Regions from separate parts of the Homo sapiens genome. Here all the other regions are linked to region 2. The links come from fine-mapping of genetic effects on plasma protein levels. A gene starts in region 2. Each other region holds a variant in brackets. All regions are shown on one strand. Distances are between the middles of the regions. Region 1 has its middle 43 kb from the start of CD28. Region 2 holds the start of CD28 (CD28 molecule). Region 3 overlaps ICA1L (islet cell autoantigen 1 like).

The links. A credible set is the group of variants that fine-mapping cannot tell apart. PIP is the posterior inclusion probability: the model's chance that the variant is causal. The UK Biobank Pharma Proteomics Project read protein levels with antibody pairs (Olink). The fine-mapping took linkage between variants from a reference panel, not from the people measured, so its PIPs are less certain.
Region 1: its variant is the best candidate, but not a certain one, in a credible set for the plasma level of the CD28 protein (UK Biobank, PIP 0.58).
Region 3: its variant is the best candidate, but not a certain one, in a credible set for the plasma level of the CD28 protein (UK Biobank, PIP 0.79).

Annotation. Positions count from the first base shown.
Region 1 is chr2:203,662,507-203,665,356 of GRCh38, reverse strand. No RefSeq gene overlaps it. Among named protein-coding and RNA genes, the nearest start is that of CD28, 43 kb to the left of the region's middle. The variant C/T (reference allele first, on the strand shown) is at 1,252.
Region 2 is chr2:203,705,047-203,707,887 of GRCh38, reverse strand. It overlaps CD28 (CD28 molecule), which reads right to left and starts at 1,249. Exons shown (of 4, transcript NM_006139.4): 1 at 1,140-1,249. The coding sequence starts at 1,191. RefSeq lists an enhancer at 1,220-1,369.
Region 3 is chr2:202,806,697-202,809,196 of GRCh38, reverse strand. All of the region lies in intron 9 of ICA1L (islet cell autoantigen 1 like), which reads left to right. Among named protein-coding and RNA genes, the nearest start is that of ICA1L, 64 kb to the left of the region's middle. The variant T/G (reference allele first, on the strand shown) is at 1,306.

The DNA of each region.
Region 1 (2,850 bases), 43 kb after region 2:
AATAAATAAATAATAAATAAATAAAATCTCATTAGTTCTCAGGGTAATCTTTATAGGGGTCTGAGGATAGGGTTAAATTGTTACTACAGTTGTGGCAGACCTCGACAATGCAAAGCCCATAGAAACACATCAGTGCCCATCATTGTTAAAAAATAGTATTAAATGTGCTTAGGCACCAGAACTATAATCTAAGAGGCAGAATCCAAGTCTTAAGTCCCAATTCCTGTTTTCTGAAGCATAGCAAAGTAATTTACTCTCCGAGTAAAACAATCTTTCTAGATCAGTGGTTCTCAAAGGATGAGGTTTCTAGATCAGCAGCATTAGCATCACATAAGAGCTTGTTAGAAATGCAAATTCTCAGCTGTGCGGCCATAAAAAGGAAGGAGATCATGTCCTTTGCAGGGACATGGATGAAGCTGGAAGCCATCATCCTTGGCAAACTAACACAGGAACAGAAAACCATGAGGCTGGGTTGGTGGCTCATGCCTGTAATCCCAGCACTTTGGGAGGCAGAGGCAGGCAGATCACTTGAGGTCAGGAGTCCGAGACCAGCCTGGCCAACATGGCGAAACCCCATCTCTACTAAAAATGCAAAAATTAGCTGGGTGTAGTGGCAGGCGTCTGTAGTCCCAGCTACTTGGGAGGCTGAGACAGAAGCATCACTTGAACCTGGGAGGCAGAGATTGCAGTGAGCTGAGATCATACCACTGCACTCCAGCCTGGGTGACAGACCGAGACTCTGTCTAAAAAAAACAAAACAAAACCAACACTGCATGTTCTCACTCATAAGTGGGAGCTGAACATTGAGAACACATGGACACAGAGAGGGAAACAACACACACCAGGGCCTGCTGGGGGATGGGGGATGAGGGGAGGGAACTTCGAGGACAGGTCAACAGGTGCAGCAAACCACCATGGCACAGTATACCTTTGTAACAAACCTGCACGTTCTGCACATGTATTACGGTTTTTTTTTTTGGAAGAATTAAAGAAGAAAAGGAAAAAGAAAAAAATGCAAATTCTCAGCCTCATCCTCCACCTGCTGAAGCAGAAACTTCAGGTGAGAGGCCCAGCAATCATGTTTAAACAAGCCCTCCAGGAAAAGCTGATGCACAGTACGATTTGAAAACTATGACTCTAGGCCAGACCAAATAGTGGCCTGTGGAGCACAGCATTAGCATTTCCTGGGAGCTCATTAGAAATGCAGAATCTCAGGCCCCACCTCAGACCTACTAAATCAAAAACTGCAGC[C/T]GAACCAGATCCTCAGGTGATTTGTATATACATTAAAGTTTGAGGAGCAGGATCAAGGATCAAACTGAGAAACTTAAAAACCTAAACAAATAGGCAGAGCACAGTGGCTCACGCTGTAATCCCAGCACTTGGGGAGGCTGAAGGGGGCAGGTGACCTGAGGTCAGGAGCTCAAGACCAGCCTGGTCAACATGGTGAAACCCCGTCTCTACTAAAAATATGAAAATTAGCTGAGTGTGGTGGCACACGCCTGTAGTCCCAGCTACTCGGGAGGCTGAGGCAGGAGAATCGCTTGAACCCAGGAGGTAGAGGTTGCAATGAGCAGAGATCACGCCACTGCATTCCAGCCTGGGCAATAGAGCGAGACTCCGTCTCAAAGAAAAAAAAAACCTGATTTTATAAATATGTCACTGCAAAATTTACAACACACTCTCTTCCTCATATAACTCTCTCAATAACCTTGTAGATTAGGTATTGTCATGACCTCCATCTTACGTATGAGACACAAGGAGAGTGGATAATTTGCTGGATGCCACAAAGCCAGCAAACAAAAGAGCCAGGATTTCAATCTAGGTATTTTGACTGTGAAAGGTAGGCTCTTAGCCAGCACCTATAACAAGTTATTCTGATTGTAACTCCAGTAAGGTCTTTTTTTCTCTCTCTTTCACATCACACTGCTTCTCTAACAGCAATTACATTCATCGCAACCAATTAAGCCTTTCCCCTAAAACTAAAAATAATATATATCTATTTTAGTTGAACAAATATTTATGGAGGTCTATTTTTTAGCAGAGAAGCCTGACCTGTTGGAGCTTATAGTGCTAGGTTAATAAGTGTAGGTGCTCAATAAATATTTGCTGAACCAATGAATCAGTGAATAATTTTATTATAATATGCTAAGTGATTCAGGAGGAGAGATGAGAGCCCTGTATACATTCTGGGGCCTCAGACATTTGCTGTAAATGATTAATGCTGAGCTGAACCCATAAAGAGAGGAAGTGTCAACCAGACAAAGAATAAGGGAAAGAGGATTCCAGGCATGTTAAAGTGCTGGGGCTTTATCTGAAGATGACAATCACTAAGTACTTAAGGAACCATATGGTCACTCAAATAGATATGTGTGAACACATATACATAAACAGTTATACCAAAAAAAAATCAAAATACCAAGAATCCACTCCCCAAAGCCATTAGAACTTCCAGGGTGAAATAAACCACTAGGATTTAGATTATTAGCAACCATACTCTATGAGAATATATGAATGTGTGGTTTGTAATTAAGGTCTTGCCCCCCTGTACACAGGAATGGAGAGAAAGGGCTTAGTGGTCTGAGTTGCCTGCAGGATTCAGAGGGCCAAAAAGAGATAGAGGAAACAGAGCCCAGGCCTTGGAACCTTCAGAAAATAATGGGAAGCCCCCTGCTCCTGACTTAGTTTCAGTATCAACTCTTATAGAAAATAGGAATAAGAGGGACAAATTTGAGTGACACCATTTTTCTTTTTGACACATAAATGACACACCATTAAGATGCCTGCTCTTGAGAATTCCTCAGAAAGTGAAATTATCCTCCTCCTTAGCTTCATGGTTTGGTTCGTTTTGTT
Region 2 (2,841 bases):
GATTTTCCGAAGTTAATTTAACCCTGGATTTACCTGAGTCCATGAAATTACAAATCACACCATGTTAGATGGAATAGCATAATAATCAACAACACCGGCACTGGAGTCAGACTAAGGTGGTTCAGACCCTGCCTCCTATAGCTGCCACCTGTACATCCTTGGGCAAATCCCTTAATGTGCCTACCCCTCAGTCTCTTCATCTGAAATGAAGTTAACTGTAATACCTACCTTCTAGTTACGAGAACTGTGTGCTGCTCAAAGTGCTAGATGTATTATCCTCCTCATCATCGTCATTGGGAACTTAAAGAATTTTAATCTAAGAAAATACATTTTGGCCGATTGTAAAAGAAAACTAATTTATTAATATTGGTGTTGTAGCAGCTTCTGTGGTGACTCCAGAATTCATGTTGGAACTCATTCAATTCAGGTAGATAGAGTAATTACAGTTCACATTTATCTTGAAGCCTGACTGAGCTAAGCCCTTCGCATGGATTATTTCATTTTACCTCACAATGACCTTGAGGTGAGGTTTATTATTATTCCCACTTTACAGTTAAGGAAACTGAGGTTTGGAGAGTTTAAATAATAGCTAAGCCTAAGCTTACCTAGTGAGAATTGGACCTGTGTTAGGAACATAGGCAACCTAAATTCAGAGCTTCCAGAGCCAATCTACTTACAGCAGCTTTCTTAAATTAAAAAAAAAAAGAAAGAAAGAAAGAAACGATACATAAATTAAAAATTATTGGCCGGGCATGGTAGCTCATGCCTGTAACCCTAGCACTTTGGGAGGCAGAGGCAGGTGGATTGCTTGAGCTCAGAAGTTTGAGACCAGCCTGGGCAACATAGTGAAACCCCATCTCAATTTAAAATAATAATAATAATAATAAATTCTTGGGACACTATCAACTAATAGCTAGAGAAACTAATAGCTTAGAAAATTTATTTCCAAGGGACTTTTGTTAAGATACTATATTGTAGTCTGAGAATCAATGATTTTCAAAATAACACATTGCCCTATTACAGCAAAACTACACTTCAAATGTTCAAATTTCACACATTGTTAGAAATTTAAAATAAACTAAGCCAATTGGAAGACCTCAAAAAATATTTACAGAAAGAAAGACATTAACATTGTTTACCTGTTACTTGAATTGAAGGGAATAAGTTGAGAGCCAAGAGCAGCCTGAGCATCTTTGTCCTGACGATGGGCTAGGGTTCCAGCCCCTCCTCCCCGAGGAACCCGAAGTGTGAGGGGAACTGAAAGACGCACCTGCCAAGGCCTGAGAGTCTCCGTCATCCACGGCCACCACCACCGCCACCATCCCCTTAGGGCACATGATCAAGGCACTCAAACCACAAGGCATCCTGACTGCAGCATTTCACACAGGATATAACGTTGTTTTGATGACTTTAGACTTTTACTTCTATTTTTAAAGACTTTTTTTTTGTCACTGAAAAATAGTCGGTCACTACATGATGGGCTTATGGGAATTATTCTTTATTGATGGATATCAAGAGTTGTGTAAAAGGGGTGCTTGAAATCCAGCAGAGATTAAAGGGGAGACAAAGTGTTCTTAAGAAGGAACAGGCCGGGTGCAGTGGCTCACGCCTGTAATGCCAGCAATTTGGGAGGCCAAAGTGGGTGGATCATTTGAGGCCAGGAGGTCAAGACGAGCCTGGCCAACATGGTGAAACCCCGTCTCCATTGAAAATACAAAAAATTAGCCAGGCATCATGGTGGGTACCTGTAATCCCAGCTACTAGGGAGGCTAAGGCAGGAGAATCGCTTGAACCCAGGAGGTGGAGGCTGCTATGAGCCGAGATCATGCCACTGCACTCCAGCCAGGGCAACAGAATGAGAAAAGAAAGACAGAAAGAAAGAGAGAAAGAAAAGAAAAGAAAAGAAAAGAAAAGAAGGAAAGAAGGAAGGAAGGGGAGAGAGAAAAAAGAAAGGAAGAAAGAAAGAGAGAGAAAGAGAAAGAAAGAAAGAAAGAAAAGAAAGAAAGAAAGAGAAAGAAAGAAAGAAAGAAAGAAAGAAAGAAAGAAAGAAAGAAAGAAAGAAAGAAAGATGGAAAGAAAGAAAGAGGGAGGGAGGGAAGGAAGGAAGGGGGAGAGAGAGAAAGAAAGAATAAAGTCTCTAGCAGAGGAGAGATTTTCATAGGATGGGGACAGGTTGTGTCAAAAAGATAATGGTAAGAATTCTACTGAGGAATTGGGAAACATCTGCATAAACGTTTAAAGGAGTTACAAATATTAGAAATGTAACATTTGTGTAGGACATAAGGTAGCCCTCTGGAGCATTTAGCACACAGTGCTTGATTTATGTCAAGCCTCCTCCAACTCACTTCTAGGAACTTTGCAAAACCCATTCTACGTGCAAGCAGCCAGCCAGCTGAGTATCTGGGGGAGGTTCCCTAAGCAAAGGGAAAGTCAAAACAACATTCTATGTTCTTAGTGGGACAGTAAGGCAACCAAAAGCCCCTTGGTGTCTCATGCTCTCTATGTCCCTCAAGGTTAAGTAATAGGGCACAAAAGGAGGCTCCGTGGCAGGATTTCTGAGATTCATAACCACCACCCGACTGCACCCTTCTTCAACTCCCAGGCCCTTTGCAGAGAGGGTTATTCCACCAGCACGGCCAACTGCTCTCTTCTTCCGGCACCTACGTCAGTATCTTGTACTCAATGACTTCTTCAAAACTTTTCCAGTAATTTTTTTCTTCTTTTTGATAATCTAAGCTTTGTGCAATTACTCTAGTTGGGGGTTTTGTGTATGTGGGTTGTTTTAAAAGATAACTTGTATTGCTTTTTATTCTGACTATAAAAGTAAGGCATATTTCATTG
Region 3 (2,500 bases), 900 kb after region 2:
AACCTCTTTGTTAAGTTTACCTGATAGGATTCTGAATTCCTTCTCTGTGTTATCTTGAATTTCGCTGAGCTTCCTCAAAACAGCTATTTTGAATTCTCTCTCTGAAAGGTCACATATCTCTGTCACTTCAGGATTGGTCACTAGTACACTATTTAGTTTGTTTGGTGAGGTCATGCTTTCCTGTATGGTCTTGATGCTTGTGGATGTTTGTTAATGTCTGGGCATTGAAGAGTTACGTATTTATTATAGTCTTTGTAGTCTGGGCTTGTTTGTACCTGTCCTTCTTGGGAAAGTTTTCCAAGTATTCAAAGAACATTGAGTTGTTGTCATCTAAATCTTTGGTCATTGTAGCTGTATCTGCATTGGCAGGGGCACCCCAAGCCCAGTAATGCTGTGGCTCTTGCACAATTGTAGAGATACTGCCGTGGTGGTCTTGGGTAAGATCTGGGAGAATTCCCTGTATTACCCAGGCAGAGACTCTTGTTCTTTTCCCTTACTTCCCCCCAAACACATGGAGTTTCTCCAAAGCCAGCAAAATACTGGGTCTCAGCCTGGGCCTCCTGTTACCACTGCCTGGCTACTGCCAATATTCACTCAAGGCCCAAGGGCTCTACCATCAGCAGGAAACAAATCCAGCCTGGCTTGTGTCGTTCTCTTCAGGGTGGCAAGCTACTCCCCAGCCTAGAGCAGATCCCAGAATGCCATCTGGGAGCCAGGGCCTAGAGTCAGGAACCTTAGGAATCTACTTGGTTCTCGATTCTACACCAGCTGAGCTGGCACCCAAGCTGTAAGACAAAATCCTTCCCACTCTTCCCTCTTTTTTCCTCATGCGGAAGGAGTCTCTCCCTGCAGCAGGTACTGCCTGGCTATCGCTGATACTCACCCAAGGCCCAAAGGCTCTTCAGTCAGCTTGTGGTGAATGCTGCCATTTTTAGGACTCTCCCTTCAAGGTAGTGGGCTCCCCTTTAGCCCAGGGCAGGTCCAGAAATGCCATCCAGAAGCCAAGGGCTAGAACTGACTACCCCAGGTGACTTCTTGGTTCTCTACCCCACTGTGGCCAAGCTGGTGCCCAAGCTGCAATAAAAAGTTCCTTTACTCTTTCCTCTCCTTACCTCAGGCAGAGGAAGTCTCTCCCTGTGGGCACCATAGCTTAGAATGCACTGGGTCACACCTGAAGCCGGCACAGCCCTGGGTCTTACCCAAGTCCCATGGTGAGTACTGCCTGGGTGCTGCTGATGTTTATTCAGGGCCCAGGGTCTCTTAGTCATCAGATGATAAATCCTTCCAGGACTGGGTCCTTCCCTT[T/G]AGGGCAGTGCATTCCCTTCTGGCCCTGGGTATGTCTAAAAATGTGATCTGGGAGCTAGGGCTTGGAATGAGGGCCTTGGGACTCTACCTTGTCCCCTATCCTACTGTGGCTGAGCTGGTATCCAAGTTGCAAGACAAAGTCCCCTTTACTCTCCTTTCTCCTCTCCTCAAGCAGAAAGGAGTTTCTCCTGGAGCTGTAAGCTGCACTGCCTGGGATTGGAGGAGGGGTGATGTAAGCACTTCCTTGGCTGGCTGGCTGGCTGGTATCTCACTAGGTCACATGTACCCTAACTCCACTGGCTCCAAGCCCAGCACAACACCAGGGCTTGCCCAGGAATTGCAGTACTTGTGGCCTAGACTGCCTTTCAAGTTTATTTGGAACCCCAGAGTGCTTTAGCTTGCCATGGTGGGGCTTGCTGGAACTCAGATTCTGACCAGTGGGATGGGTGGTTCCCCTCTGGCTGGGGCTGGTCTAACTGCCCCCTCTGTGAGTACTGGCTGAATTCTGCCCCATGTTGCTTTCAGCTGTGGCAGGCAGCACTGAGTTCTAATGCAAAGTCCCACAATCACTGCACTCTCCCTCCCACAAGTACAGATTCTCTCTCCACACCATGTGGCCACTGCCAAGAGATGGTGGAATGGTGGTGTTGGCAATTCAAGACTGTCTTTCCTATCTTCTTCAGTGCCTCTTTCAGTGATACGTAGTTAAAACCAGGTACTGTGATCTCTCACCCGATGTTTGGTTGTTATGAAGGTTCTTTCTTGTATGGATAATTGTTCAATTTGTTGTTCCTGTGGGGTACAGGGGGGAAATGATGGCTGGAGAGTTCTATTAAGCCAGCTTGCCCTGCCTCCTCTCCCCAAAGATAGGTGCTTTTAAACGCAAAAGTCCAGTTTATAGGGTTGCATGATTAAGTTTTGAGTTTTCCCTCATACTGAAATTTGTGTTATCTTTAAAAAATAAATACATGTTATATATACAGTCGACATATATTTGAACCACTGTGGTAAGGAAGAGTACAGGCTTTGAAAACAGAAAAATCTGAGTTTGGATCCTGGCTTTTTAAAACATCATTTATGGCTCTCTCAGTTGTCTCATCTGAAATAGGAGTTATTTATGCCTATCTTACCAGGGACATTAGGGATAGAGGTAATATTGAGAAACTCCATAGCACATAGTAGGTGACCAATAAAT